7 linked regions of the Homo sapiens genome follow. The protein of the gene in region 1 purifies or fractionates together with the protein of each later gene. This does not show direct contact. Each region holds a gene or a part of one and is shown in the gene's direction. Other genes may lie near its edges. The genes, in order: MOB1B, ZNF787, PPP6R1, PPP6R2, LRCH1, NECAP1 and C1orf116.

Region 1 (4,297 bases):
ATTGGGAAAAGAAGGAAGAAAGGAAGGAAATACTTACTGAGCACTGTGCTACATACCTTCCATTTGTCATTCTTAAGATTAGCAATTTAGGCCGGGCACGGTGGCTCATGCCTGTAATCCCAGTAGTTTGGGAGGCTGAGGCGGGTGGATCACGAGGTCAGGAGTTTGAGACCAGCCTGGCCAACATGGTGAAACCCTGTCTTTACTAAAAATACAAAAAAATTAGTCAGACATGGTGGCATGTGCCTGTAGTCCCAGCTACTCGGGAGGCTGAGGCAGTGGAATTGCTTGAACCCGTGAGGTGGAGGTTGCAGTGAGCCGAGATCATGCCGCTGCACTCCAGCTTGGGCAACACAGTGAGACTTCGTCTTAAAAAAAAAAAAGATTAGCAATTTAGCAGCACTTTGGGAGGCTGAGGCGGGTGGATCATGAGGTCAGGAGTTCAAGACCAGCCTGGGCAACATGGTGAAACCCCGTCTCTACTAAAAATAGAAAAAAGTAGCTGGGCGTAGTGGCGGGCGCCTGTAATCCCAGCTACTCGGGAGGCTGAGGCAGGAAAATTGTTTGAACCTGGGAGGCGGAGGTTGCAGTGAGCCGAGATTGTGCCATTGCACTCTAGTCTGGGCGACAGAGTGAGACTCCATCTCAAAAAAAAAAAAAAAAATTAGCAATTTAGGAAAAGAGACTCATGATAGTGCAATGTTTGTGTCTGTCTCTGTTTCTCTCTAGACTCTTGATGGTGCTATGTTTATATGTGTCTGTCTCTTTCTCTCTAGACTCATGATAGTGCTATGTTTATATGTGTCTATCTCTGTCTCCCTCTGTCTCTCTGTCCCTCACTTCCCCCCAAGCCCCCAAAGCCAGCATTTTGTTTTCAGGCAAATGATTTAACTGATTTTAATGCTTCAGCAGCCTCACCTTTAAAAAAAGTTAATAATTTATAAGAATAATCAAATAGGCCAGGTGTGGTAGCTCATGCCTGTAATCCCAGCACGTTGGGAGGCTGAGGCAGAAGGATGGCTTGAGCCAATTTGAGTTATAGTGAGCTATGCTTGTGCCAGTACACTCTAGCCTGGGCAACTGAGCAAGACCCTGCCTCTAAAAAGAAAACATTAAAAAAAAATAACAATAATAGTTCAATGAGTGTTTACTATGTGCCAGGGACAAAGTGTTTTAAATAGTTCAGTAATTAGCAGGAATCCTATTTTATACATAAGGAAACTAGCACAGAGAGGTTACATAATTTTATCAAAATCATGTGGCCAGTAAATAGTGTAGCTGGAATTTGAGTCCTGGAAGTCTAGGTCCAGAGATCCTGTCTTATACTTCTTTTTTTTTTTTGAGACGGAGTCTTGCTCTGCCACCCAGGCTGGAGTGCAGTGGCTCAATCTTGGTTCACTGCAACTTCCACCTCATGGGTTCAAGCAGTTCTCCCTGCCTCAGCCTCCTGAGTAGCTGGGATTACAGGTGCCCTTCACCATTACAGGTGTCCTCCACCATGCCTGGCTAATTTTTATATATTTAGTAGAGATGGGATTTTCACCATGTTGGCCAGGCTGGTCTCAAACTCCTGACCTCAGGTGCTCCTCCCACCTCGGCCTCCCAAAGTGCTGGGATTACAGGTATGAGCCACCACGCCCGGCCTTTTTTTTTTGGAGACAAAGTCTCACTCTGTCACGCAGACTGCAGTGTAGTGGCGCTATCTTGGCTCACTGCAAACTCTGCCTCCCAGGTTCAAGTGACTGTCCTGCCTCCGCCTGCTGAGTAGCTGGGACTACAGGCGTGTGCCACCATGCCCAGCTAATTTTTGTGTTTTTAGTAGAGATGGGGTTTTGCCGTGTTGGCCAGGCTGGTCTCGAACTCCTGGCCTCAAGCAATCTGCCTGCCTCGGCCTCCCAAAGCGCTGGGATTATAGGTGCTAGCCATTGCGCCCAGCTGATCCTGCCTTATACTATCATCTATAATTAACAAAATTATATCTATATATAGATATATATACACATACACATGCGTGTATATACATATATACACACATATGTATGTATATATGTGTGTATGTATATCTATATATATATTTTTTTCTTAAAGGTGATATTCAAGTGGGCCTTGTTATTAAGGGAAGTCTTATGTTACCAGGCATTATTGTCTCATGATGCTGGGACTCTCTTCTAAGATTCACCAAGAATACACTAGTAGAAGACGAAATAGTAACTTTTAAATTCATATAATATTTAAATATTTTTAACCTTTATCTTTAGTGTAAAAATAATATACATGTTGGAGAAATCACAAAATCATGTTAGGAAAAGGAAGAAAATAAAAATCACTCATAATCACACCTTCAGAGACAACTGTTGTTTGTATTTAGGGATAAAGTTCTGAATCTTTTTTTTTTTGTTTTTTGAGACAGAGCTTTGCTCTGTCACCCAGGTTGGAGTGCAGTGGCATGATCTCAGCTCACTGCAACCTCCGCCTCCTGGATTCAGCGTTTATCCTGCCTCAGCCTCCAGAATAGCTGGGACTACAGGTGCCCGCCACCACGCCTGGCTAATTTTTGTACTTTTAGTATGGATGGGGTTTCACCATATTGGCCAGGCTGTTCTGGAACTCCTGACCTTGTGATCCGCCCGCCTTGGCCTCCCAAAGTGCTGGGATTACAGGCGTGAGCCACCGCGCCCTGCTAACTTCTTCTGAATCTTTTTTATTGCATTTTTGTTTGTATGTATTTAAAAATATACAAATGGATTTCCACCGTGCGTAGACCAGGTTTTTTACTTGTAAATTTTTTTTTGCCAGAGAATAGATTTCTGCAACATCATTTTGAATGGCTGATGACCAAGTATTATCTTACAGTTTTTTATCTGACAACAAAAAAGGATATCAGATATTATATCCTTATAATATATTCTCCACTGTAAGGTTATTTTATTTTTTTCTTTTTGTTATTAAATATATAGAATTTAATATAACATTAAAAAGGATAACATCTTACATATATGTCATATATTATATCCTTATATATAATATATGTTATCCTTTTTAATATGTTGTATTTTTGAGGGAATGTGGGGAGTGGAAGTAAATATGGTCATCTTTTCAGAAAGAACTGTAGTTTTGGGAATTGCAGGACTGACTGGCTTTAGTTTACTTTTATCATGTTTAGAGATAGCTTTTTTTTCCTTTACATACTAGAGTGCAAAATAATTGCCATTTGGTTACTTTTACCATTATTGATTTCTTTCTCTAAGTGTAGTTGCAGTTTTTGTACTTTCGGAGTTTCTGATATATGAAAGCACGTGTCTAATACATGTAGCACTTCCCTAAACTGTGTATTTGATTAGGAGATATTGAGGCAAAATAGCTACATGTTACTTGAAAAATATGAAACAGTTCTACCTGTTAGGAATGTCAAACTGAGTCCTGTAGAGAACTTTAACTCTCCTTTTCTTCCTACGTTTCCATTTTTGTTTTATATTAACCAACTTAAGGCCATCTTTTTTTTTTTTTTTTTGAGACAGGGTCTCATTCTGTCTCCCAGGCTGGAGTGCAAAGGCACTATCTTGACTCACTGCAACCTCTGCCTCCTGGGTTCAAGTGATTCTCCAGCCTCAACCTCCCGAGTAGCTGGGACTACAGTCGCCTACCACCATGCTGAGCTAAGTTTTGTATTTTTAGTAGAGACAGGGTTTCACCATGTAGGCCAGGCTGGTCTTGAACTCCTGGTCTCAAGTGATCTACCTACCTCAGCCTCCCAAAGTGCTGGGATTACAGGCGTGAGCCACCGTGCCCAGCCTTAGGTCCATCTTTTACAACACATTTAATTAAGTATAAGTGTAGCTGTGAAGTAACATTCTTTTACAGAAGTGATTTTTAAATTAAATTTTTTTTTTTTTTGAGATGGAGTCTCACTCTGTCTCCCAGGCTGGAGTGCAGTGGTGCGATCTCTGCTCACTGCATTCTCTGCCTCCTGGGTTCAAGTAATTCACCTGCTTCAGCCTCCCAAGTAGCTGGGATTACAGGTGCCCGCCACCACACCCAGCTAATTTTTATATTCTTAGTAGAGATGGGGTTTCACCATGTTGACCAGGCTGGTCTCAACTTTGTCTTCAGGTGATCCACCGGCCTCAGCCTCCTAAAGTGCTGAGATTACAGGTGTGAGCCACCACGCCCGGCCTTAAATTTAATTTTGAAACATTTTTCAACTTCCAGGAAAGTTGCAAAGAACAGTGCAAAGAACTTCCACATATTCCTTATCCAGAAACCCCATTGAGTTTCATCTGTTGCTTTAACAATGTAA
Region 2 (4,297 bases), on another chromosome or scaffold:
ACTGATCCACCTGCTTTGGCCTCTCAAAGTGCTGGGATTACAGGTGGGAGCCACCGCATCCAGCCAGGGAGCCTGTTTTAAAAGAGAGATCTGGGTATGAACCCTTCAACAACTCGGGCGCGTGGCAAAGGCTCTGCTCTCCACTTTAGCTGTGTGTGTGCGTGGCACCGCTTGGTGGTGTGCGTAGAGAACCCTCACAGTGCATGGCACAGGTTGGTGTTGGTGTGCGTAGAGACTTTCACAGTCACGGGTTGGTGGTGTGTGTAGAGATCCTCTTGGTGCATGGCACGGTTTGGTGGTGTCATGTGTAGAGACCCTCATGGTACGTGGCACGGGTGGGTGGTGTGCGTAGAGACCTTCCTGGTGCGTGGCACGGATCAGTGGCGTGTGTAGAGACCCTCACTGTGCGTGGCACGGGTCGGCGTGCGTAGGGACCCTCCCGGTGCGTGGCACGGGTCGGCGGCGTGCGTAGGGACCCTCCCGGTGCGTGGCACGGGTCGGCGGCGTGCGTAGGGACCCTCCCGGTGCGTGGCACGGGTCGGCGGCGTGCGTAGGGACCCTCCCGGTGCGTGGCACGGGTCGGCGGCGTGCGTAGGGACCCTCCCGGTGCGTGGCACGGGTCGGCGGCGTGCGTAGGGACCCTCCCGGTGCGTGGCACGGGTCGGCGGTGTCGTGCGTAGGGACCCTCCCGGTGCGTGGCACGGGTCGGCGGTGTCGTGCGTAGGGACCCTCCCGGTGCGTGGCACGGGTCGGCGGCGTGCGTAGGGACCCTCCCGGTGCGTGGCACGGGTCGGCGGTGTCGTGCGTAGGGACCCTCCCGGTGCGTGGCACGGGTCGGCGGTGTCGTGCGTAGGGACCCTCCCGGTGCGTGGCACGGGTCGGCGGTGTCGTGCGTAGGGACCCTCCCGGTGCGTGGCACGGGTCGGCGGTGTCGTGCGTAGGGACCCTCCCGGTGCGTGGCACGGGTCGGCGGCGTGCGTAGGGACCCTCCCGGTGCGTGGCACGGGTCGGCGGCGTGCGTAGGGACCCTCCCGGTGCGTGGCACGGGTCGGCGGTGTCGTGCGTAGAGACCCTCCCGGTGCGTGGCACGGGTCGGTGGTGTCGTGCGTAGAGACCCTCCTGGTGCGTGGCACGGGTCGGTGGTGTCGTGCGCAGAGACCCTCACGGTGTGTGGCACGGGTTGGGAGTGTCGTGTGCAGAGACCCTTAGGCGCCTGTTGCCCTGTTTCTGCTGTGATGGGTAAGTATCTGCCAGGGGTGTGGGAACTCCAGTCCCTGTTTGGCATGAGCACCACATGTACACTGTCTTGTGTACGCTTGACAGTAACATGTTCTCCATCTTGCCAGTGAGGAAGCTGAGGCGCGAGGAGGCGCGAGGTGGGGTTGCTTGCCCCAGGTCCAGCTGGGGAGTGGTGGGGCTGGGATGGGAACTGGCGGTGGTTGTAGCCCTTGAGGGTCCTTGAGTCCTTCCTGCGGCTGTGTGAGGCCTTGGCTGGCCCCTGCAGTGGGGAGCGGCCAGGCTAGCTCCAGGCCAGTTCTCGGTGTCCTGGGGTAGGTGCTGTGTGCCTTGTCTGCCGGGCGCTGTGCCTGTCACGCCGGGGTCTGCAGGCTGCCTCCCTGCAGGGCCCTCGGTGCAGCCTGGCACCCCATAAACTCTGTCCTTCTGTCTCATCCCCTTCTAACAGGGACCCAGACATGGAGCTGCGGGAAGAAGCCTGGTCTCCGGGGCCGCTGGATTCTGAGGACCAGCAGATGGCCAGTCACGAGAACCCAGGTGAGCAGCCAGAGGCCTTCCCAGCCGACCCCGCTGCCTCCCACCTGACCCTGGCTTCCTTTGCCTCTGGGTGGGAGGAAACCCCCCTTCCCTGTTTTCCCCTCTTGGGGCCCTGGGACCACCCGACCCTGGCCTCCCCTCCCGCCCTGGGCCTTGCACTCCTGGCTGTAGAGGGAGGGCTAGTGTTGTGGCTCCAAGTTTCCTTTCTGCTGGATGATCTTGGGGACCCCTGGGGGCCACCTTCTCTGCCTGACTTCCTCTGTCCTTGCCCCTCCAGCCTGGGCAGCACCCCCGTCTGTTGAGGGTGCCCCCTTCCTCTCCCCACAGCCCCGCCTCCACATCCTGGACCCTCTGCTATGATTCCAGGCGGGCCTGTGGCCCTCCCTGGCAGGAAACTCCTTACACCAGGGGTGGCCCAGGAGCGCAGGGAACCCGCAGGCTGATGCCGACTTTTCAGGGAAAGCTCAGGAGTGCAGGGAACCCGCAGGCTGACGCAGACTTTTCAGGGAAAGTTGTCAGTTTGGGTTTTTATGTGAAATCCTTCACTTTTTGGACATTGGCAATGTGTTTTGTTTGTTTAATAAAGCATTATTGGGGTTGAGCAAAACTCATTTGTGGGCTACGTGGGGCCCAGGTTTGCTTGCGAAGGCCCCATGGTGACCTCACTGTGGCCCCTGACACCTCATGGCCTCCCTCCCCTCCACGGAGGCCGCCTCCCTGCCTCAGACCTGAGGAATAAGGTGCGGCAGCTTCTCTCCTTGCTGTGTCTGCATGTCAGGCCCCAGGTCCCAGGCCCACGCTGGCCCCACGCTGGCCGGGGCTCAGCAGACCTTTTCTGCAGAGAGCCAGAGAGGAAATACTGTTCATCTTGCAGGCTGCGGGCCTCACAGATACCACGCAGCCACAGTCCACACGGAAATGCGTGGGCACACTTGATGCAGAAAGGCCGGCAGAGCTTGCCAGCTCAGGCTGGCATAGCTGAGTCGTCCCATACAAAGACCGGGGTGAAGTTTGGGATCGATTTTGTAAAGCACCTCAGCCCCTTTTTGAGTGATTTCTGAGATCTGTGGATGGAGCATGAACAGAAGCTCCCTGTGGGCGGGGCTGTGGCAGCCTTGGTCCCGGGGTAGAAACTATGATGGGGGTTTTGAGTGCGTTGCCAGGACCGCATGCCCAGGGGGCCCACACCCCGGCCCCAGGCTGCCCCGCGTCTCAGTGGGTGGTTGCCATCCCGCACCGCCACAGCCCTCGAGGGCTGCCCCTGCCTTCTCCCTCGCATACATCCTTGGCCTTCGAACCTTTTCGAAAATTAATTCTGTGGAAATCTCAAGTGTGTGGACGCAGTGTGATGAATCCCTCTTCCTGCGCCAGCGATTCGCGGCACTGCTGGTCCCTTTCTGCCCACTGTGGTTCTCTTTCCACAGCGTTTTAGAGAAAATATCCATCACATCATTTTGTCTGTAAATTCTCCAACATGTAAGGACTCCTTGAAAAAAAGAAAAAGCCCTACAGGAAGCTGATCTCATCTAACAAAATGTCATTTTTCAGGAACTTCATCTAATCTAGCACCCGGTCCTTTTTAAAATACTTCGTTGTCTCCAAAATGCTTGTCTTTGAGTAAGTTCATCTTTAATTTTACAAGTCACTCATACACTCACTCTCTTTGTAGAAGGTAGGTGTCAGGTCCCCTTGTCCAGCCCGCTGCCCTGCCCAGCCCTGGCCCTGCGTCTGTGGGAGTCCTGTCCCCCACCAGGCAGCTGGCTCCGGGGAGGGCCTGCGCTTGGCGCCGCCTCTGGAGCATCACCCCTGCGTGACGCCCTTGCTCGGCTGTCAAAGATGGGCTGCGCACGCTCCCAAGCTGCTCTGGTGTCCGGCGTTCGCGTAACTCCCGTGTGGGGTCCCGCCTACATGCGTCCCCCCTATGTGACAGTGACAGACATCGTAGGTGGGGGTGGAGTGGCGGGGGTTGGCCTGGCCATGGCGTGTGGAGTCCCGCCTACATGCGTCCCTCCTATGTGACAGTGACAGACATCGTAGGCGGGGGTTGGCCTGGCCATAGCATGTGGGGTCCCACTTACGTGCGTCCCTCCTATGTGACAGTGACAGACTTCGTAGGTGGGGGTGGAGTGGCGGGGGTTGGCCTGGCCATGGCGTGTGGAGTCCCGCCTACGTGCGTCCCTCCTATGTGACAGTGACAGACATCGTTCGTGGGGGTGGAGTGGTGGGGGTTGGCCTGGCCATGGCGTATGGAGTCCCGCCTACATGCGTCCCTCCTATGTGACAGTGACAGACATCGTAGGTGGGGGTGGAGTGGCGGGGGTTGGCCTGGCCATAGCATGTGGGGTCCCGCTTACGTGCATTCCTCCTGTGTGACAGTGACAGACATCGTAGGTGGGGGTGGAGTGGCGGGGGTTAGCCTGGCCATAGCATGTGGGGTCCCGCTTATGTGCGTCCCTCCTATGTGACAGTGACAGACATCGTAGGTGGGGGTGGGGTGGCGGGTGTTGGCCTGGCCATGGCGTGT
Region 3 (4,297 bases), on another chromosome or scaffold:
GTCTTGCTCCCCACGATGAGCTCATTTACGGCCAGGGAGACTGAGGCCCCAGGACATAGCTGGTTAGTGTGTGGGAGCTGGATGGCTGCCCATGGCTGCCCCGGGGTCCCTGTACAGCACAGCGTAAGGGACACCACGATGAGGGATAGTCAGCTGTTCCTGGCTTAGTCCACAGCTGGACAGAGGTCCTCTCAGATGCAGACGTGATATCCTGTGTTGGCTGCTTCTGTGCCCAGCATGGAGACTTGCAGAGCGTTGGTCTTTGTGGGTCAGTGGCCTGTGCCGAGACCCCTGGAGAAGATGCTCAAGTGAAAACTGGGCTGGACACAGTGGCTCACATCTTAATCCCAGCACTTAGGGAGGCCGAGGCAGGAGGATCGCTTGAGTTCAGGAATTTCAGCCCAGCCTGGGCAACATTGTGAGACCATCTCTGCTTTTTTAATTAAAAAAAAAAAGAAGAAAACCCCACCCTGGCAGGAGAATGAAGGGACTGACTGGTAGATGGCATTGGGGTCACCAGCTGCCCCTTTCGGGATGAAACTGTTAGCTTTTCCTCTACCAAGAAAATTCCAGAGGGGTTAAGAAGTTAAGTGAACAAAACTAAACCCAGAAAGATTTCCGGAATGGAAAGTGGATGACTGGTTTGATCATCTCAAGGCTGAAGATGCTGCCCCGCATAGCTCCTGTAGCAGAAGCCAGGTCAGCTGAGGCTGCCAGTGCCACGGGGACATGGGCTGCCCTGCCCTAGACCCACTGTGTGCCCAGCGTGGTCTCTGCTCCGCTGCTTCTCAGTGTCTAGGAGGGACTAAGGACACTTGCCTTGGAAGGTGGTTGTGAGAATGAAGTGCGTGAGTAATGTCTGTCACATACTTAGTGTCCTTTAAGAATTAACTGTCCTTTATCCATTGATCTTTGTGGCAGAATTTTTCATGAATTTGAGACAAATGATCCCTTGAACTGTCCGTAACACGTGGGACAGAATGTGGACCCTGATCATTAGACCCTCGTGGTGAGGGAGGTGGGGCCCTGGCAGGCACAGTTTAAGTTTTGACGTGATTCTTTTTCCCATAATTTAGAATTTCAGCCGCGGACCGTAGACATCTTGAGGTTAGGGGATGTGCTTTATTGGGCTGTAGTCTCACATTCTGCTTGTGCCTGGCTGGTGTGAGTGTCAGCCTCCTACAGATGCCCCAAGGATGGGGACAAGGGCATGGATCTGAATCCCTCTCTGGCACCTGTCCTTGGAAGAGCCTGAGGAGAGTCGCTTAACATTTCCGAGCCCCATTTTCTCACTTCTAGAGCCAAGGGAAACAGCCTACCTCAATGAGTGGTTTTAAGGATTTAAAGTGATCATATGTGAGATGTTGATATTCATGTATGCGTTGCCCCTTAGGACCAGTGGTTCGGGTTGTGTGTGAATTTGCAGATACCAAATCTGCAAGTAATGAGGGTCAGCTCTGTGTTGAGTGAAGAAAGAAATGTGGCCTGTCCTGTGCTGCCCCCACCCCCAGGTGGACCTTCTCACCATGCCTTGCCTTCTCTCCTAGCGCACCTTTTGACAAGACAGCCAACATCACCTTCTCCCTCAATGCTGACGATGAGAACGTGAGTACTGCCCTGTCCCCTGGTTGTGGCGGGTGGAGGGGTGTGGGGCTGTGGGCAGTGTGGCCCATCCTCCCACCCCTGTGCCCTGCAGCCCAACGCCAACCTACTTGAGATATGCTACAAGGACCGCATCCAGCAGTTTGATGATGATGAGGAAGAGGAGGACGAGGAAGAGGCCCAGGGCTCAGGGGAGTCTGATGGAGAAGATGGCGCCTGGCAGGGCAGCCAGCTGGCCAGGGGGGCCCGTCTGGGCCAGCCACCTGGTGTCCGGTGAGTCCCCCTCCAGTTTCCCTTCTCCAAGCTTCCACCACACGGCAGGGCCAAGGGGTCCCCCCAACACATTTGGACTGAGGCTGAAGTGAATGAAGAAAATAAGGAACCTGCATTGGTGTGTGTATTAGTTGGGGGCACTTTCACTTTTGAGTGATAGAAATCTAATTCAAGGCCAAGCATGGTGGGCTCATGTAATCCCTGAGTGCCTGTAATCCCAGTACTTTGGGAGGCCAGGGCAGATGGATTGCTTGAGCTCAGGAGTTTGAGACCAGCCCTGGGCAACATAGGGAGATCCTGTCTCTACAAAAAATACAAAAGTTAGATGGGCATGGTGGTGTGCACCTGTAGTCCTGGCTACTCGGGAGGTTGAGGTGGGAGGATGGCTTGAGCCAGGGAGGCAGAGGTTGCAGTGAGCCGAGATCATACCACTGCACTCCAGTCTGGGCAACAGAGCCAGACTTGTCTCAAAAAAAAAGGTAGATGATGCATTAAGAAATCAACAAATTAGCCGGGCACAGTGGCTCAAGCCTGTAATCCCAGTACTTCGGGAGGAGGCCAAGGTGGATGGATCGCTTGAGCTCAGGAGTTTGAGACCTAGCCTGGGCAACATAGCGAAACCCTGTCTCTACAAAAATTACCTGGATGTGGTGACGTGTGCCTGTAGTCCCAGCTACTTGAGAGGCTGAGGTGGAAGGATCGCTTTACCCTGGGGGGCGGAGGTTGCAGTGAGTTGAGATCGCACCACTGCACTCCAGTCTGGGTGACAGAGACCTGGTCTCAAAAAAAAAAAAAAAAAAAAGAATCAACAAATTAAAAAAAATCAGCCGGGCACGGTGGCTCACGCCTGTAATCCCAGCACTTTGGGAGGCTGAGGCGGGCGGATCACGAGGTCAGGAGATCAAGACCATCCTGGCTAACATGGTGAAACCCCGTCTCTACTAAAAATACAAAAAATTTGCCGGGCGTGGTGGCGGGCACCTGTGGTCCCAGCGACTTGGGAGGCTGAGGCAGGAGAATGGCGTGAACCCGGAAGGCGGAGCTTGCAGTGAGCCAAGATTGCGCCACTGTACTCCAGCCTGGGCGACAGAGCGAGACTCTGTCTCAGAAAAAAAAAAAAAAAGGAATCTAATTCAAATGAGTTAAGTTATGAAAAGAAAGGGATAATCTCTGTGGCTGAAAAAATAGGCAGGTCCTGAGGTATGGCTTGGTCTGTGTGTGTCTCTCTCTTCCCGCCTCCCTGTCTCCTTCCTTCATCCCTTCACTTCACTTCCTCGTGTTAGCTCTCACACGTTTTCCTAGAAAGGGGGGTAAGATGGTCCCAGGCAGCTTCTCTCTTCTCTAATTCCAGTAAAATGAGAGATGATGACGTCCCTCTCCAATCAGGCTGTGATGACATTTTAGTGCAAATGTTACATTGTTTTTTTTTTTTCTCTTAATACTGGCCGGCCCCAGAGTCGCTGTGATGAAATGGGTTCATGCCATGTAGATTTGACAGCCTGAACACTAAGTCATCATCTGCAACTGAGTTTTTGACTCATGACTTTTGATTTCGGAATTAGGCTGTTTTCACTTTTTATTGACATGTAACATGCGTATAGACAAGTGTACATACAGATCCTGAGTGTGTGGCCAATGGATATCCTTCCTCAGTGCCCAGACCCAGGAGCAGGACCTTCCCAGTACCCACATCCCCTCTGTTAGCCAGTATCCTCCCTTCTGAGGGTAAAGTTGTCCTGGCTTCTAACCCTGTAGATGAGTTTTGTCTCTGTTTTCACTTGATATAGCATACAGCATCTCCTTTTATGTCTGACCTCTGTTGCTCAACACTCTGCTTGTGAGCTCCTTCCCTGTTGTGTGTTTGGGTGCCCCTGGCTCTCGTGCAGTGGGGCAGTGCCATGCATGATGAGCTGCAGCTGAATTGCTTGTTCTGCAGTTGACAGGCCTTTGGGCAGGTTCCTGTTGCTCGCTGCTGTGAGTGCAGCCGCTGTGAGTGCGGCCGCTGTGAATACCCTTGCACGTGTTGTTGGTGCACAAGTGTGTCACTGCCAAATCCAGCATCTTGACTTAGCCCTCTCTTTTCTTCTAAGAGTTTTATAGCATTATTTCTATGGTTTTCCATTCATTTTGAGCTAAATTTTGTATATGATGTGAGGTGGTCCACCTTCATCCCTTTACATATAGATAACCAGTTTTCCCTGCACCAGTTGTTGAAGACACTGTCCTTTCTCCACTGAATCATCTTGGCACCTGTGTAAAAAGGAAATATTTGACCATATGTATGAGTTTGTTTCTTCCCTCTCTGTTCTGTTCTATCAGTCTGTGTGTTGTTTTTATCCAGTACCACACTGGCCTGGTTGCTGTTGCTTTATAGTAAGTTTTGAAAATGGGAGGTTTGTTGGGCACGGTGGCTCACACCTGT
Region 4 (4,297 bases), on another chromosome or scaffold:
AGTCAGTTCCCCCCAGTCAGTGAACCCTCCAGTCAGTGACCCACCCAGTCAGTGCCCCCTCCAGTCAGTTCCCCCAGTCAGTTGCCCCCCAGTCAGTGCCCCCCAAGTCAGTCAGTTCCCCCTCCAGTCAGTTCCCCCAGTCAGTCAGTGCCCCCCAGTCAGTGCCCCCCCCAAGTCAGTCACTGTCCCCTCCAGTCAGTGCCCCTCCAGTAAGTTCTCCCCAGTCAGTGCATCCCCTAGTCAGTTCCCCCCAGTCAGTGCCCCCTTCAGTGTCCCCCAGTCAGTTCCCCTCAGTCAGTGCCCCCCCAGTCAGTTCCCCCCGCAATCAGTTCCCCCGTCAGTGCCCCCTCCAGTCAGTGCCCCCCAAATCAGTGCCCCCAGTCAGTGCCCACTCCAGTCAGTTCCCCTCCAGTAAGTGCCCCCCAAGTCAGTTTCCTCCCAAGTCAGGGCCCCCTCCAGTCAGTTCCCTCCCAGTCAGTCAGTGCCCCCCCAGTCAGTGCCCTCCTTCTGTTCCCCCACCCTACACCAGTCAGTGCTTCCTGCACCAGTCAGTGTCCCCTGCTAGCTAGTCATTGCACCTCACCCATCAGTCCCCACCCCACCCATCAGTGCCCCCCACCGTCAGTCAGTGCCCCTTGCAAGTCATGCTCCTCCTGTCGGTCAGTGCCTCCGCATCTGTCAGTCCGCGCACTGGTCAGTGCCTCCACTGTTGGTCAGTGCTCCCCCACCGTCAGTCCACTCTGCTCCCCATCAGTGTCCCCCAGTCAGAGTCCCGCATCCCTGTCCCCCGTCAGCCAGTGCCCCCCCAGTCAATTATTTTCTTTCTGTCATGTCCCCACTTCCCATCAGTGCCTGCACCCCCACCCGTACCCGTCAGTCACTGACCGCATAATCCCTCCCCTGCCAGTGCCCTTCCTTGTCAGTCCAAGCGCTCTGTGACCCCTTCTGTCAGCAATGTCCCCACCTGTCATTGATCTTCTCTGTCAGTGCCCCCCATCAGTGCCAGTGCCTCTGTCAGTGAGCCCCACTGTCAGTAAGTTTCCCTCATAAGTGTCTCCCTCATCCTGCCTGTTGTGGCCCTTCCGCTCTTTGCTATCGGCCTCTGTGTTAGTGCCTGTCAGATCCTCCCCATCAGTTCTCCCCTGTTGTCAGTTCCTGTCCCCTTTCATGCTACCTCCTTCATCCCTTATCTGTTAGGGACCCATTAGTACCCTGCCCTGCTGTTAGTGACCCCACCTGTCAGTGTCTCCCCACTGCTTCTCTCCTGCCTGTCAGTGGGAGAACTTTCAGTGCCCGCTGTCATCACCCCTCTTGTCCAATCACTGATTCCCCTTTCCATTATTTCCTAACCCTTTCCAACACTACTCGTCTTTTCCTGTCGCGCTCCCCATCACGGCTTGAGATATCACCAGTCATCTAACCTCACCTTACCCCGCACTGCCCTGTTGCTTCCATCCCCATCATCTCTTCCTTCAGCCTGTCACCTTCCCCCATGCACCGTACTGTCCCCCGACCTGCCACTCTGTGTACTCGCAGCTTCCCTACCTGCTTTGTCCACTCTCTTGTTACTGACTCCTCCCAATTTGCTGCTCATTCCCTGACCTGTCAGCACCAGCTCCCCCAAGTCTGTCACTTCCATTTAGTCCCTGCCTTTCACTGCAGCCCCCTCTTTGTCACTGTACCCACTGATTTTGTTCTAGACCCTTCTCCTGTGTCTTGTTCTTTCATCCACCCTTCCCTCATGGCCTCTCTCTGCCCTGCTCTTGGCTTCTCCTTGCCCCTGCAGTTGCCGACACTGTTCACTGTTCACTGAAAGAGGCTCTTCACCTCTTTTTGATGTCCCTTTTTCTGGTTTATCTTCCCTTTGTTTTTATTTTTTACTTTAAAATGTTGTGGGTACACAATAGGTGTATATATCTCTCCCCTTTGACTTTTCTAACTCACTTCAGTTAATCTTTGGAATGTGAGAGGCAGCTAGCTTTGAGACAAATTGGGGGACAGAGTCTCCCATGCTGAGAGGACAGCACATGCAAAGGCCCTGAAGTGGGAAATTTTGGGTGTGATATCCTCCAGGAACCTAGATAAGACTGATGTGCTTATGGTAAGGGAGAGAGAGGCAGGAGCCTGGGCTGGAAAGTTGGTTTTCTCATTAAGCCGTTCCTTGCAGGTGTTAGTAGGGAGTTGGACCTTCAGTCTGAGTTGTAGGAGAAACCTGGCCTGGAGATTGAGTTGGAGAGTGCCATGATCATATGGACATTGGCACGTGGACAGCAGGTGGGGGTGAGATGAAGTGTTGGGAGCTGGGTGTAGTGATTGTAATGGTTTAGAACTTGGTGGTGGGTTTAGGGAGATATTTTGGAGGTAGAGCTGTTGGGACTTGTTGGTAGATGAGAAGAGAGGTGTGAGAGAATGAATGGACTCAGGGTAATTTCTGGGCTGCTTTTATCCTCCCAGCCCCATCAACCCTTCTAGGCTTTCTGATGGAACAAATGGGTGGATAGTAGCACTGTTTATTGAAATAGGGAAGCTGAATTAGGGTGGTGTCAGGGCTGGGGGTGTTACTACAGTTTGGAAGTAGAAAGCAAGGCTTTCTCTTGGCTGAAAGTAGGGGAAGTCTGAGAAGTCCGAGGGTCACTAGGGAGAAGGTATCTTACAGGAGGGTCTGGAACCCAGAGGAGAGGCCAAGCCGCAGGTATACAACTGTCATCATGGGGGCAAGGTATAAAGCCTTGGGGATGGCTATTTATTTAAAAGCACATGGGCTGGGTGCGGTGGTTCACGCCTGTAATCCCAGCACTTTGGGAGGCTGAGGTGGGAGCATCACTTAAGGCCAGGGCAGCCTGGGGACATGACAAAACCCTATCTCTACAAAAACAAAAAGCAGGGCCGGGCGCAGTGGCTCACGCCTGTAATCCCAGCACTTTGGGATGCTGAGGCGGGCGGATCACCTGAGGTCAGGAGTTCGAGACCAGCTTGGCCAACATAGTGAAACTCCATCTCTACTGAAAATACAAAAAAAACTAGCCAGGCATGGTGGTGGGCGCCTGTAATCCCAGCTACTCAGGAGGCTGGGGCAGGAGAATCGCTTGAACCTGGGAGGTGGAGGTTGCAGTGTGCCGAGATTGTGCCATTGCACTCTAGCCTGGGCGACAAGAGTGAGACTTCCTCTCAAAAAAAAAAAAAAAAAAAAAAGTTGGGCATGGTGGTGTGCGCCTATAGTCCCAGCTGCTCGGACACTGAGGTGGCAGGATCACCTGAGCCTGGGGAGGTCAAGGCTGCAGTGAGCTGTGATCACTCCATTGCACTCCAGCCTGGGCGACAGCGTGAGACCCTGTCTCAAAAAAAAAAAAAAAAAAAAACGGGCTGGACGTGGTGACTCGTGCCTATAATCCCAGCACTTTGGGAGGCTGAGGCGGGAGGATCACTTGAGGCCAGGAGTTCTAGACCAGCCTGAGCAACATAGTGAGGCCCCATCTCTGCCAAAAATAAATAAAAGCACACCCACAAAAGCAGAATGTGGCCAGGCATAGTGGCTCATGCCTGTAATCCCAGCAGTTTGGGAGGCTGAGGCAGGTGGATCACCTGAGGTCAGGAATTCGAGACCAGCCTGGCCAACATGGTGAAACCCCGTCTTTACTAAAAATACAAAAAATTAGCCAGGCGTGGTGGCATGCGCCTGTAATCCCAGCTGAGGCAGGAGAATTGCTTGAACCCGGGAAGCGGAGGTTGCAGTGAGCCAAGATCACAACATTGCATTCCATTCTGGGCAACAAGAGTGAAACTCCATCTTAAAAAAAAAAAAAACAGAAAAAAGCAGCTGGGTGTGGTGGCCCACGCCTGTAATCAGTTTGGGAGGCCGAGGCGGGTGGATCACCTGAGGTCAGGAGTTCGAGACCAGCCTGAACAACATGGTGAAACTCCGTCTCTACTAAAAATACAAAAATTAGCCAGGCGTGGTGGTGCATGCTTGTAATCCCAGCTATTCGGGAGCCTGAGGCAGGAGAATGCCTTGAACCCAGGTGGTGGAGGTTGCACTGAGCCAAGATTGTGCCACTGCACTCCAGCCTAGGCAACAGAGCAAGACTCTGTCTCAAAAAGAAAAAAAAAGAAACCATTTTATTTGCTCATTCATTAAAAGCAGCTCCTTATCTGTTTTATCCTGAGATTGCAGCAATTCAGTCACATCTTCAGGCTCTACTTCTAGTTCTGTTACTTATTTTTTGAGACGAAGTTTCCCTCTTGTTGCCCTGGCTGGAGTGCAGTGGTGCAATCTTGGCTCACTGCAACCTCTGCCTCC
Region 5 (4,297 bases), on another chromosome or scaffold:
GGTTAAGTTGAAATGTCCCACGTGAAAATCTTATTTTTATGCCACTGATGAGCACATGATACCTTGAATATTAAAACTGTGTGAAAGGCAGAATGATGTGTAAATTGCAGAACAGGCCGTTCCTCCATGGCGAGATTGTGAGTGAAGGATTTCTTTGACCCATTGGCACAAAATAGGTATTCTATTCTACTATTATGATGGATTAAAAAATCTTTGATGATGAAAGGGTCTTACCTGCTTGAAATAAGGGGTTACTCCTGCCATTTGCTAGTAACCAAAAATGTGTGCTTCTTTCTAGCTGTTCCTCCGTGTATTTTTAATTGTATGCACTGTCTCTTTCTGTTCTAATGGCTGCCCTCGGAATAGGCTGACCTCTGCTCTCCGTGTGACATCCTGCAGTTGGATTTTCGTCACATTCGAAAGACTGTTGACACTCTGCTGGCACTCGGGGAGAAAGCCCCACCACCAACTTCTGCCCTCCGCTCCAGGGACCTTATAGGCTTCTGTCTTGTCCATATTCTCTTTATAGTGCTGGTCTATATCACTTACCACTGGAATGCTCTGTCCGCATAATGTCTGCACGTGCATCCAAACGCTGTGCTCTGTCGCCCTCAACCTTTGCAGGGTCCTTCCTACCTTTGAGCCTTTGCCTTGCAAACTTCCATCCCTGTCATGTCTTCAGTTATCTCTCGAGTTTTGAAGCTGAACAGTAGCAAATCAGATTTTCCAGAAGCACAAACTTTGTAGAATACAGTTTAGTATAATTCCTCTCACTTACTGAAATACAACGACGACGACTGCAAAGTGTATGCACACCGCATGCTTCCTCATCCACATAGTGCCAGCAGCAGTGCCACGCAGTTCCTCCTCTCCCTCCCGGTGAGCTGCTGCCCTGGGCAGAGGGGAGGAGAATTCCAGGACAAGAGTGTCAAGGACAGGGATTTAGCATATGGAAGTCTTTCCTTTGGGTCAGTATTGAACTAGAATTCTAATTCGGGACTGGGCAATTGAGCTGTATAGGGGCCACCTTGCAGGGAGGACAGAAAACTAACATTTTGGCCCAACTTGATCTATACAAAACTTTAATAATACCACTACTGACCAAGTTGGACGTGTACACGTACTCACACTGCCTTGATGGCCATTCGATTGGATTCCTCCCAAATTTCCTAAAAAGGGAGCCGCGAAGGGCGCTGGGCAGTGTGGCCGCCAACTTCCACCCCGGCAAGCCCCTCTGTCCTATGCAGAAGGGCGCTCAAGGGAAGGAAGTGTCGTTGCTGTTAGAGCCTCACGTGGAGGAGTCACTTAAACACCAGTTTTTTACTGCTTAATTCCTTGTTAGGTCTTCTCTTGAGGCTCTTAGAAAAGCGTTTTCCAGAGAGATTTCTATTTTTGAACAATGGAACGGATCACTGCTTTTTTGCCACATCACATAGTAACTGCCGGTCCAGAATGTGACGGATTCGACTCTATTCATTTTCAAATAAAGCCATGAGCCGTGGAACATTCTTGGTCCTGGTGCTTGGGTTATGATGGCAGGAGTCAAGAAGAAGATTACTTTCATTCTAGAAGAATGTAGTTTCTCTAATTATTTGAAATGTTCATTTAGCCTTTGATTTTCACTGATATTAACTAGCAAACTGCTTTAAGTCAGCTCAAAGGATTATATAGTAACTATATCTGCATTTGGAGCAATGTGATCAGTTTGCATTTAAAAGGAAAAAAAAGAATTTTATCTTAGCCAGAATGTCCCTGGATTCAGGGGTGTCTTTGTATAATATGAGAGGGCCTTGTTCCAAGGTCAAGGCAGCCTCCTTATTTTACATGCTGTTTGCCAAATCTTGTTTCTTAGCTTGGGGAGATGATGGACTTAGCTTCCTCAAGATAAATTTCTAGTTTATTAAGATGCAAACAGCTCTCATAGATGGCTACTACGAAGAAAATCTTATTTTTCTGAACATTTTCATGAATCCAGGGGACTTGAAAATATGGAAGACCCACATAGTTAGAAGAATATATTTATAAAGATTCCTTGCTGCTAAGTCAGATCAGATTTGCTAACAGGAAGCATTCTTTACATGACAGTATCTTGAGTTATGTGAGTTTTTTTTCCTCCTGACTTTGTGTTGATTGGTGAAATGCAGGGTATGTGGAAGTTATCTAATTAACCTCAGTTGTATATGAATAACCCACAGATGTACTGAATTACTTTTGGTGCTATCTTGTACTCTTCAATCTGTAACACAATAAAATCCCTTTGTACGATGTCTAATGAGCACCCTGAGCCATAAATTGCTTAATAAACACATTTTGGGTGATTATTCCAAGTTTTTATCAGCCCATTGATACATGTATTCATGAGCTCTCAGCATTCCCATCCAGCTCTGCAGTGCATTGAGGCTTCTCTTTAATGGTCACCACTGTGGTGGTTTTTCCCTTCTTTCTGGGGAGAAAATGGGAAAAAAAAAAAGAAAACTTACTGGGTTGCCACCTTAAAATAATATCAATAAAAACTGAGTAGGACACTCATGTAAGAGTAGATTTAATTTTCAGTGTTGATATAGTTCAATTAAAACATGTTAAAGACAAATTAAAAGACATTTATATTTTAATTCTGGCATCCAAAGTATTCTTTGGACGCACTTTGATTTTTTTTGTGTCATTAATTTGTCTGTACTCTGCTGCGCTGCACTTCTTGGGATTTATTGGATGATGTTTTTTCATTAGTAGTATGGTAACTAGCAGAACACAATTAATTTAGTCCTTTAGGCAAAAATTTGAATGAACTGTTCTGTCCATTGCCAACCCATTAATTTCTAATCAGAATATTAAGCTTCTCTGTGGTTTTTCTCCAAGGTACCCGTGCACCAGCCCATATGCTAACTGGATGCCTGCGGATGCCTGCCCTTGCAGCTTGACTGGGGATACCTGGCTGACCTCCTTAGAGTCTGAGAAGTAGTCAGGGATGTCACTGAGTGGTTTATTGTGCTGACCAAATCTCCTCCTCACAAGAAAGACCGTTTTTTCAGTACTCCCTTCCAATGTTAGATAAAAGGAGCCAAGTATCTATTTACATTTTATTTTGAAATAGCCATTTGTATTCTCTTTCTCCAGTTTCTCCAACTGGTGGCAACTCTCCACTCAGTGTCAGGAATTCCAAAATTTGTGACACCTAATTTCTAATCATCTTTCCTATTTATGGATTTCTGGTTTGTTATTTTTAGGGAGAGACACTTATGAAATGGGGCTGGTGGAAAGGGGCCCCGCAGAACTACAATGTATGATAATCGAGTATAAATTTCATCAATGAGAGTAGATAAATAAAGGCACTTGATAGCCTGCTGCTATTTGTTTGTAAGAAATTAAAACTAGCGCGTGGTGAGCTGGGTTATCTCTCGAAAACTCATGTAGATGCCTGATTGAGTCATAAGGACAAAAGGGTGTTTTGCCTTTGCCTGTGGGGAAAAAGTAGGGATGATATTTTAAAATTTTAAGAAACTGAAAGTTGTTTTGGATTAGGTGAAAAATACTTTAATATGATTTTATTTCAGGAGACTTGATTTTTAAAAATTAGGCTTCGTATTTCAAAATTAGTTCTCAATAAACAATCAATTTGGTATATAGAATGTGCCCTTTTTTTCTTCTTTAAGATGGTCAGAGTCTAGTTGCCTGGCTTTTCACTGTGACTTTGTTCATTTTTGTGTTCATTCCTTCATTCCATAAATATTGAATGAGCAATCTCTGCAAGGCCCTGGGGATAAAAAAGTCACTGGGACACATGGCCTGGTCCTCAAAAAGCTTACAGTCTATAGCAGGAGTCTGCAAGCTTGTTTCATAAAGGGCCTAAAGGAAACATTTTAGGCTTCTTGGGCCATGCAGATTCTGTTGGGATTACCCAGTTCTGCTTGTGTACCATAAATGCAGCCTTAGACAATACATCAAACATAGGTGTGGCTGTGTGCCAATAAAACTTTATTTACAAAAACTGGCTGCGGGCTGGATTAGCCTGTAGGCCATAGTTTGCCACCCTTGATCTAGTAGGTCCTTAGACAAGTAAAGAGGAATTCAAGTGATAAGGACCTGTGGTGGAACGGGTACAGGATTCTGGAAAAGAGACCTGACCCTGATGGGGAATAGGGGACCGTGAACGCATCCTGGGATGGTGGTGTTTCCACTGAGACTTAGCAAACGTTCAGGAATAGCCAGGTGGAGTGGGGAGGGGAGAGGGACTAGGGTTGAGGCATATGTGTGTGTAGAGAATGAAGTGTTCTAGGGAGAGGATGGACTAGAAGGTAGC
Region 6 (4,297 bases), on another chromosome or scaffold:
ATCCCAACAGCTTTTCTCCAGACAGCAGATGTAGTAATCTTTTTAGAATATAAGGGAGATCATGTCACACCTCTGCTTAAAATTTGTAATAGCTCTTTTTTCACTCAGAGTGAAAGCTGAAGTTGTTACTATGACCCACAAGGCCCTGCGTGATCTGGCCGTCTGTTACCTCTCCCACCTTGTCTCTTCCTCTGTTCTAACCACAGTGCTTCCTTGTTGTCTCTCAAACATGCCAGGCATGCCCCCACCGTAGCACCTTTGGGCTAGCTGTTCCTTATGTCTAGAATGCTTTTCCCCCAGACATCTGTATGGATAACTCTCTTGCTTCACATTCTAGCTCACATTTCACCTTAATGAGACCTACCCCAACCACCCTCTTGAATGCTACAACTTGTTCATTCTCCCACTGTCTTCTTAATCTTCCTAATTTGCCTCTACATTTTCTTTTTACCTTAGAACTCACCACTTTCTAAGATACTAATTATGCTGTTTATTATGTTTCTTTTTTATTTTCTATCTTCTGTTAGGATGTAAGCCTCATGAGGGTTGGAATCTTTGTTTTGGTTGCTGTTGTATCCTAAGCATCTGGAACAGTGATGCATCTGTCCTAATAAGTACTGTATAAATATTGATTGAATTCAGTGAAAGATAGTATATTTACTGATTTGGGAGGGCTCCCATTACCTAGGATATTTAATGTAGTAGACTTTGTTGTTATCTGATTAGTAAAGCATGGTTATCTAGTATACCATCTATAGTTTGAAAATAGCATCGTTATGAGAAATTTTATTTATTTCTTTATTTGAGACCAAGTCTCGTTCTGTCGCCCAGGCTGGAGAGCGGTGGCGCAGTCTCGGCTCACTGCAGCCTCCACCTCCCAGGTTCAGTTGATTCTGCCTCAGCCTCCCAAGGGATTTCAGGCGCACGCCACCATAACCAGCTAATTTTTGTATTTTTAGAAGACGGGGTTTCACCGTGTTGGCCAGACTGGTCTCAAACTCCTGACCTCAAGTGATCCACCCACCTTGGCCTCCCAAAGTGCTGGGATTACAGGCTTGAGCCACCATGCTCGGCCAGAATTTTATTTTTTATTGCTTTTATTCGTGCTTTTCCATCTTTTTAATGATGCTTATTGGACTCCAAAGTCCTCAAGTAGTAGCATTGTCTTTTACTTGCTTTGGACTGTATGTAACATGAGGCATCTAAATAGATCATGAATTATTCTTGTTGATTAATAGGTAGAAAGAATAGGCAATCCAGGATAGGGAAATAGAAATACAGTCAAAGATTGTGGGTGGGCGTTAGTAAATTAAGGACATGTGCCTGAGGCTTCCTCTTTTCCTGTCCTAGGGCCTCTGACTGGAAATTAGACCAGCCTGATTGGACTGGTCGCCTCCGAATCACTTCAAAAGGGAAGACTGCCTATATCAAACTCGAGGATAAAGTTTCAGGTAATCTTTGCGGGTGACCCTCTAACATTAAGAATATTAATTTGGTGTGCTTTTATAAGTACCTTCAATTTGGGGACTGGAATGGAAATACTACTTGTTAATTGGGGTTCTGGATTTTGGCTTGCTTTACTCAAAAAAGTCTTTCTCTTATCTGTCAGGGGAGCTCTTTGCTCAGGCACCAGTAGAACAATATCCTGGTATTGCTGTGGAGACGGTGACAGATTCTAGCCGCTACTTTGTAATCCGGATCCAGGATGGTACTGGTAAGAGAACTGGGATTTTGAGTGGAACGAAGTTAGGAAAACAGGTGAATGCACAGCCATGAAAAGTGTTTCCGATTGCATTTATCTTTCTTTGGTTTACTTCATTTTTTCTTCCCTTTCTCTAAAGTTGCTCTAGTTGCTAAAGGAAAAGTATTAACATGTTATTTGTAATAGATAAGCACGAGTTCAAGATGTGGTAATTCATATGTAGACTTAAATAAATGAAAAACACATATCTAACAAATGAATTAACACATTTGGCACTTTAGGAGGCCGAGGTGGGTGGATCACCTGAGGTCAGGAGTTTGAGGCCAGCCTGACCAATATGATGAAACCCTGTCGCTACTGAAAATAAAAAATTAGCCAGGCGTGGTGGCAGGTGCCTGTAATCCCGGCTACTCGGGTGGCTGAGACAGGAGAATCACTTGAATTGGGGAAGTGGAGGTTGCCGAGATCACGCCATTGCACTCCAGCCTGGGCAACAAGAGCAAAACTCCATCTCAAAAAAAAAAAAAAGAATGAACACTTTTTGCCCGTTTATTGTTCGTGGTAGTTTTTGGTGGGACTATCTTGAATCATCTTACGTGTGGGGCAGTCATTCTTACTCTTTTCTCCATGGTCTATAACAGAGGTTGGCAAACAGACAAATAATAAATGTTTTAGGTTTTGCAGGTCAGGTGGCCTCTGTTGCAACTACTCAGTTTTGCTGTTGTAGTGTGAAATCACTGTAGAAAATATGTAAACACATTGATACCACTATGTTCCATGAAACTTCTTCTACAAAACCAGGCTATGGCAGGATAAAGCCCATGGGCTCTATGTAGTTTATCGACTCTTGGTCTATGAGAAGATATTTCACATTCAGACTTTGTCTAGTTAGGGTGACTGTTATATTTTCATTGGGCAAAATTTGCCATAGAGCAGCAGTCCTCAACCTTTTTGGCACCAGGGACCCGTTTTGTGGAAGACAGTTTTCCACAGACCGGCATTAGGGGATGGTTTCAGGATGATTCAAGTGCATCACATTTATTGTACACTTTATTTCTATTATTATTACATTGTAATGTATAATGAAATAATTATACAACTCACTATAATGTAGAATCAGCGGGAGCCTTGGGCTTGTTTTCCTGCAACTAGACGGGGGTGATGGGAGACAGTGACAGATCATCAGGCATCAGATTCTCATAGGGAGCTCATAACCTAGATCCCTCACATGTGCAGTTCACAGTAGGGTTCACACCCCTCTGAGAATCTAATGCTGCCACTGATCTGACAGGAGGCGGAGCTCAGGTGGTCATGCAAGTGACGGGGAGCGGCTGTAAATACAATGAAGCTTTGCTCTCTCGTGTGCAACTCACCTCCTGCTGCATGGCCTGGTTTCTAACAGGCCACAGACTGGTGCCGGGGGTTGGGGGCTCCTGCCATAGAGGATACTTCCTAGTCGAGTCTTCCTACGTTTTCCACAGGGCGCAGTGCTTTCATTGGCATTGGCTTCACAGATCGGGGAGATGCCTTCGACTTTAATGTCTCCTTGCAGGATCACTTCAAGTGAGTGAAGCTTGTCCTTAGTTACGAGGCTGAATGCTTATAGGAATGCTGCTTCTCACATGAATGGGCAGTATCTCTTTTCCTCCTGGTTTCTTTGTTTCTTAAACTATTTCATTGTGAATATAAATCTCCCCATTCACTTTTGTTTCCTTAGGTCATCTTTGTATCTATTCTGTTTCCTTTCCTTATAGCCTGCAATATATTTCAGATCCCTTGTGCAGTAGTTTGAAATGATGCTCTGTCGAATTTGCCCCGTCTTTTAGGTGGTAGAGGGAGGCCTATGGTAACAGCAGGGCTTTATGTGGGGAGTCGTGTGCCACTCTTGTTACCTTATGTAGCTGACATGTTTTGTGACTTTTGCAACATTTCTTTAGCCCACTTGATTTTGGTGCAGCTGTGGTTGACAGCACTGTGCACACTGTCAGCTTCCTACCTCAAGAGCAAGCATATCTCTCCTTTTCTGCCTTAGGACTCTCTGAAGTTATAGAAAGCTAAGAGCAAGCTTTAACTTGGAAAGACTAAGAAACTAACACCCCCTCAGGAGCAGCCCTCAACTGTGGGGAATGGGAATTGGTGGCTAAATACCATCCTTCTGGAAGGGGCAATTCTAATACGTATTCCGTGAGATTTCTCAGAGAGTCCCCAGTGGAATTGAACCCCAGTTGTTTTCTTTCTTGGCTTTTTTCCCTTCTGTTTCTCACTCTTTTTTATCTCTCACTGTGTTTTCTGGAATCTCATTTCATAAAAGTAAATACACCCAAATTTGTATGTCAGACTCTGCTTTCAGGAAATCTCAAACTAAGATAACTTGCTGTGTTCCCAAAGGTGGGTAAAGCAGGAATCTGAGATTTCCAAGGAATCTCAAGAAATGGATGCTCGTCCTAAGTTGGATCTGGGCTTCAAGGAAGGACAAACCATCAAGTTGTGTATCGGGGTGAGTATGGTTTTTAAAAATTTTGTTTTCCTGTGCTTCCATAAGCCTATGACATCTTTCTCTTGCTCTTCTTTTTTTCTTTTGTAGAACATTACAAA
Region 7 (5,059 bases), on another chromosome or scaffold:
ATCCTCTTGGAAGTTAATTCTCATAAGTCAATTCATTTTTTTAGCAAATGTTCAAATCACACACCTATGGAGCTGGATCAACTTCATTGACTTCATCCATGGGTGTGACTCTGGTTGCACTGAACTGCTGATTTGGAGATGCCCTTCCTGTTTTGTTAGTATTATGACATCATATATGTTTGAATGACACACCAGGGAAAGAGGTCATAGCCCGAAGTGCTCATTCAGCTGTGATATCCATAGGCTGCTGATAGGGTACTGGGTTATCCCAGGCTTCCTCCAACCTCCTTCCTATCCATTAGTCCTGCTCCACTTCATCTTTACCTTGGCCCCAGGATCACTGCCCTTTTTATTTCCTATCCAACCATGATCACAGAAAGAGAAAAGATGAAAGCCATGTGTCGTCTTGTTATAAAACATATTAATAGCTTTAAGTAGGAAATGAAACAGAAAAGGACGAATCTAATAGCTAGAATTACACTTGCAAATTATCTGTGTATTTCATGATTCCCACTTGAGATTCCTTCCAAAATAGAGGCGGATTGGCATTATGCTGATTCATAGCAACCTTGATGTTATACTGCCTGAATTAAAATCTCTGCCCTGCCTCTTCCTAGCTACATGGCCTTGAAAAAGATTTTTAACCTCCCTGTAAAATTTAGATATTAACAAATGCCTACTTTTTTAAGTTAAAGACTAAATTAAAAGATACATGAAAATGCTCAGCACAATACCTAGCAAATAGCAAGAGCTTAATACATTTTGGCAATTATTGTGTACATTGATTTTAAATTTTCTCCCTGACCTTTTAATGCTAGTAAGTGGAATACCTCAAATCCTGATACCTATCAAGGATAATCTACCTGTAGGAAAAACCAGCTTCCAGGCAAAAATCATATCTGTTAAGAGTGGTCTCTGTACCTGGTGGGAAATTTCTTCCCAAAAATAGTAGATTCTTCTACCTACTCTCTTCTCCCTACGAATGCCAAGTATCAGTCCATGAAAGGAGACAAGAGTTGCTAAACTGGTTGGTAGTTTGTTTTGTTTTTATTTCATAATATGTATTGCCACCTTCCATGAACAGCCAAAAGAGAGCAGAGGACCAAATGACAGAGTGCATGCTCTCTCCTTTCAAGCTGTCCAGTCACTCTTTCATCAGGACACGGACCTCTTAGGGGATGAATGGTTTTATTTCCCCCAGAAATAAATTAGGCCAAGGAGATTGTTGGCAAGCACTGGGGCGAGACTGGCCCAACTACAGCATCCCTAGCCTGGGGACACCTTCTTCAGTGGACATGAATGGAATTGCTAGGCTTATGAGCTAGGATTAGGCTTGGGGAAGAAAGTGACTTTCAACATCTAGAAAAGCTAGCAGCAAAACTGAACACAAATGAGTTTAGCCTAGAGAATTCAGGGGAAAACTAAGCTCCAAGCGGAAGAAGGTAGTTCTAGATGAAAAACCTGTTTCACATAGACCTATGGAAAAGCACACTGCCCAGAGGACTGTCTGCGTTCCTTTATATCAACATTAAATATATATACTATCTCTGCCTACTCCCTCCCTGCCACCTGTCCTTCCAGTCTCAGCCCAAACCGGCTCCTCCTCCTTCCAGCCCTCCTTTTTTAAAGAGCTCTTTATTAGCTCTAAACAGGAAAGGGGAGGGTAGGAGATGATTGGCTAAGAGGGAACAGCACCACCCTGCTCATTCCCCTCCCATTCCCTCCCTGAGGAAACAGCTGGAATGAGAGGTAGGGAGGGGAGGCTAGGATTGGCTGAGTCAGTGGCAGGGTGGGGGCCAGGCAGCACAGATGAAGCATTTACCTATCTAGGTAAGTCAGGAGGAGCTCAAAAGGAGAAGAAAACAGTAGGAGGCAGGGGAAGCAGCCTCTGTCTCCATCTCTGCCCTTTGAAACAAAAGGGTATTTCTTTTCTCTCTTCAGCCCCCAACCCAGTGGAGGTGAGTTAATCACTAACCAACTATTGCTTATCCTATAGCAATAGGAAGGGGTTTCATGGGAAATCAGAGCTACAGGGGAGGGGAGGTGTCCCTCTATACCCCAGCTAGGGAGATTTCCTCTCTGTTCCTCAATTCTCTGAGTCCATTCTGGGATCAGATCAGGTTGGTAGCAACTTGAGATTGTAGTGTTTTTGTGGAGACTGGGGCTGGGAGGCACCTTCTTTTTCATTTATCCCTTTAGGTTGGATAGGCATATTGTGCAAACAACAAGAAAAAGAAAATAGATTTGTTTTGGAAATTTCCATCTCTGAACAATTGAAATTGAGTTGTGATTTTAGAAAAGAACAGTTGAAATAGAGGGAGTCAAAATGGGGGAGAGTATCTTGGTTTTCCATAGCGACTGTAACAGGAAATTCTCCCGTGGCTTTACCAACTCGGTGTCGATCTTTATTTAAATAATGGGTGCAATGTGTGTGTGTGTTTGATCATGCTCATGTGATAATGGAGCTCTCTGTGTACAGGTGTGTTAGGCATGAGCTGTACTAGGTTGTTTGTAAAGGGATATGAGGTTGGGGCACATGGAGAAAACTTCAGCTACCAGCTCATCTTTGGAAAACCCATGGATAATCTAGCTGCAAAGTCAAGTTTATTTGGATTCTACTCAATTAACTTTCTGACTCAGCCTGTTAATAGACACAGAGACTGGCAAACAGAAAGCTACCTGGCTGTGCCGAGCCTCACCCACATGAATATTTCGTGGCTGCATGTCAAGTCTAGTTAGAGTTCCAAGTGGGGCTCAAGCCAAGGTAGTGTGGCAGAGTCCACAGACAGAGAAGCAGACCAGGGTGGTGGCTTTGTTTGTTTTCCTGCAGGTGTCCCAGTTGGCAGTTTGTGTGGCAGATTTACCTGCAGAAGGAAGGCAGATGTAGGAGTCGAGTCAGAGTAGCAAGTTGCCTCTCCATTATCCATCTTGGGGGGTTTAACCCTTTGGTCCCTAACTTTGACTCTTTTCCTCCTGCTGCAGAGAAGAGGGAAGTGGGAAGCCCTCAGTGCCAGGCTCAAGGGCCTGGCACACGCAGCCCTGAGTGAATATATGGGTTTTCCAGTCCTGGCAACTGGAGATTTAGGCTTGAGCTCACCTCACACCACAGAGCCAACACCCCACACTCACAGACTGAGGGCTGCCCTAGATGGTGAATTTAGGAATAAAGACCACTGGCAGTGTCTAACAAAGCTCTGCTATGCAGAGGGTATTTCTACCTGCTCCTTCCCTCAAACACACTGGTGAAAGGGAAGATGATAATGTTGCCTAAACACACACAGAAACTTGCCCATGTGTTCATGGAGACAGATATGCAAACTGTGCAAGTTTTAGTCATTCTGCTATTTTTCTTAGGATATTTTCCAGCCCAAGGCACATTTCTGGGTAGTCAACAAGAAGCAAAGACACCTGGATTGAAAGACAGGAAACCTCTTTGACTAGTAGGCAGAGAGGCAAAGCTCTTGGAGGACATGTGGGGGGTTCGTGGGAGGAGGATGAGAGGGACCTGGGTCTGATTAGAAGGTACAGACAAGCCAACCTGGAATGGAGCTGGAGCCCTCTCCCCACCCCACCATCTCCAGATGCCAGAACTTGAACTGTTCTTTATTTCCTCTCCTCCAAGGCTTGGCAGTATTTAGTATTTTAGTCAGTGGTGTAGTTAATATTTAATGTGTCTTTGGATGGGTGGCCCTGACTATAGGTGCTGCATATTTCTTAACCCATTCCCTCCTCCCGTTAAGTTCCCAAAGAGGTCAAGGGTTAAGATACCAAACTCTCACCTTGAGTGTTTTGTTTGTTTCTCAGTCTTCTTATCAGGGTTTCGATGGCTGCCCTGAAAGAGCCCCAAGGTTCAAGGTTGTGAAGTCGGTGAAAGGAAATGCAGCTTTCACCATTAAGATTCTTTAGGTCAGAAAACTAGGTATGGAGATGAGGTGACAGCGCCTCGCTCAGCTTTGGTTTCAGGTTCAGATTCCTCTGTGCAGGGATTATGTAATCCCTAAAGACATGATCTTCCTTGGCAGTTGGTGTCATTTCTTTACTGTAGAAATATCTGCTGTTGGGGCAATACACTGGTCTGGAAGTATAAAGCTGAAGCAGATGATTTGCAGGGTTTAAGGTATGAAGTAGAAGGAGAAGGGGGTTTTAAGGCTTTTAGTATTTTAGTCAGGGGTGGCTAGTAACCATTCTCGGGGGCATGCCCCTCTTGCATCCAGATAGTCCCTGAAATGCCCTGTGGAGGGCTGCCCTGTATATGCATGTATAGGTCATTCCCTGTTTCCCTTAGGAAGGGCTAGTGGTAAGAGCCATAACTTTCTCACCCGTAAAATGAAGAAAACGTCACATCCTGCCTATGTTTCCAGTTTATGCTGAAGATCGAATTAGCATATCTGAGAGTACTTTGCAAGCTATGGCATGCTGTGTTCTTGTGAAGCAGTGCTTTTCCTACCACTTTTATCTCTTCCAGCTACTTGAAGACATCCTAGGTTCTGAAACAAAAGTGTGATAAGCTTCCCTGGTAGGAAAGAGAGACTAGAAAACCTCTGTAAAGTCTAAAGCATACTTAGAAGCACAAGGGTAGTAATTTTCTCTGAAAGTAAGAGGCAGCATCTGCTCACCCATTCATAGAGAATATGATGTTAATTACAGTGAGTCACTTTAAATATTTACTGCCCTGATTTTACAGAGAAGAAAATTGGAGCCCAAAACTAGACCCTTAGATCTACATTGACTTTTTGACAACAATGCCTTTGTCTTATACAGTTTTGTAACACCAGCGCCTATTATTAGGTGCTCATAAATGTTAGTTTAACTGAAAACATTGCCCAAATTTCACTGAGCCATATATTATCCAGGAAATTAAGTATTTAAGTAAAAGCTGACAGTTATAGGTTAGAAACCAAGAAGAAGCCTTCCAAAAGCTCAACCTAATAGACCCTAGAACAGATGGCAAGTTCATTCATTCGGCATTTTTTGAGTGTTTTCTGTGTGCCTAGACTCACAGAGATGGAGCTCCTTTGCTATAGTGGCCTCAACCCTACACAATGTTAGGAATGGGTTA

Evidence for each region.
Region 2: the proteins of MOB1B (region 1) and ZNF787 purify together in Homo sapiens (affinity purification with mass spectrometry; one large-scale study listed by BioGRID and IntAct). This does not show direct contact.
Region 3: the proteins of MOB1B (region 1) and PPP6R1 purify together in Homo sapiens (affinity purification with mass spectrometry; one large-scale study listed by BioGRID and IntAct). This does not show direct contact.
Region 4: the proteins of MOB1B (region 1) and PPP6R2 purify together in Homo sapiens (affinity purification with mass spectrometry; one large-scale study listed by BioGRID and IntAct). This does not show direct contact.
Region 5: the proteins of MOB1B (region 1) and LRCH1 purify together in Homo sapiens (affinity purification with mass spectrometry; one large-scale study listed by BioGRID and IntAct). This does not show direct contact.
Region 6: the proteins of MOB1B (region 1) and NECAP1 fractionate together in Homo sapiens (co-fractionation; one large-scale study listed by BioGRID). This does not show direct contact.
Region 7: the proteins of MOB1B (region 1) and C1orf116 fractionate together in Homo sapiens (co-fractionation; one large-scale study listed by BioGRID). This does not show direct contact.

The regions. Positions count from the first base shown.
Region 1 is NC_000004.12:70,908,404-70,912,700, forward strand, and holds part of MOB1B (MOB kinase activator 1B), read left to right. Parts: intron 1-4,297. UniProt on the Homo sapiens protein: Activator of LATS1/2 in the Hippo signaling pathway which plays a pivotal role in organ size control and tumor suppression by restricting proliferation and promoting apoptosis.
Region 2 is NC_000019.10:56,100,615-56,104,911, reverse strand, and holds part of ZNF787 (zinc finger protein 787), read left to right. Parts: intron 1-1,684; 5' UTR 1,685-1,694; coding exon 1,695-1,773; coding exon of another isoform or gene 1,774-2,075; exon of another isoform or gene 2,076-3,262; intron 3,263-4,297. UniProt on the Homo sapiens protein: May be involved in transcriptional regulation.
Region 3 is NC_000019.10:55,234,221-55,238,517, reverse strand, and holds part of PPP6R1 (serine/threonine-protein phosphatase 6 regulatory subunit 1), read left to right. Parts: intron 1-1,547; coding exon 1,548-1,605; intron 1,606-1,696; coding exon 1,697-1,875; intron 1,876-4,297. UniProt on the Homo sapiens protein: Regulatory subunit of protein phosphatase 6 (PP6). May function as a scaffolding PP6 subunit. Involved in the PP6-mediated dephosphorylation of NFKBIE opposing its degradation in response to TNF-alpha.
Region 4 is NC_000022.11:50,346,026-50,350,322, forward strand, and holds part of PPP6R2 (serine/threonine-protein phosphatase 6 regulatory subunit 2), read left to right. Parts: intron 1-4,297. UniProt on the Homo sapiens protein: Regulatory subunit of protein phosphatase 6 (PP6). May function as a scaffolding PP6 subunit. Involved in the PP6-mediated dephosphorylation of NFKBIE opposing its degradation in response to TNF-alpha.
Region 5 is NC_000013.11:46,741,276-46,745,572, forward strand, and holds the end of LRCH1 (leucine-rich repeat and calponin homology domain-containing protein 1), read left to right. Parts: intron 1-366; coding exon 367-573; 3' UTR 574-3,623; downstream 3,624-4,297. UniProt on the Homo sapiens protein: Acts as a negative regulator of GTPase CDC42 by sequestering CDC42-guanine exchange factor DOCK8. Probably by preventing CDC42 activation, negatively regulates CD4(+) T-cell migration.
Region 6 is NC_000012.12:8,088,586-8,092,882, forward strand, and holds part of NECAP1 (adaptin ear-binding coat-associated protein 1), read left to right. Parts: intron 1-1,350; coding exon 1,351-1,451; intron 1,452-1,609; coding exon 1,610-1,714; intron 1,715-3,183; coding exon 3,184-3,265; intron 3,266-4,090; coding exon 4,091-4,199; intron 4,200-4,286; coding exon 4,287-4,297. UniProt on the Homo sapiens protein: Involved in endocytosis.
Region 7 is NC_000001.11:207,029,478-207,034,536, reverse strand, and holds the start of C1orf116 (specifically androgen-regulated gene protein), read left to right. Parts: upstream 1-1,780; 5' UTR 1,781-1,958; intron 1,959-5,059. UniProt on the Homo sapiens protein: Putative androgen-specific receptor.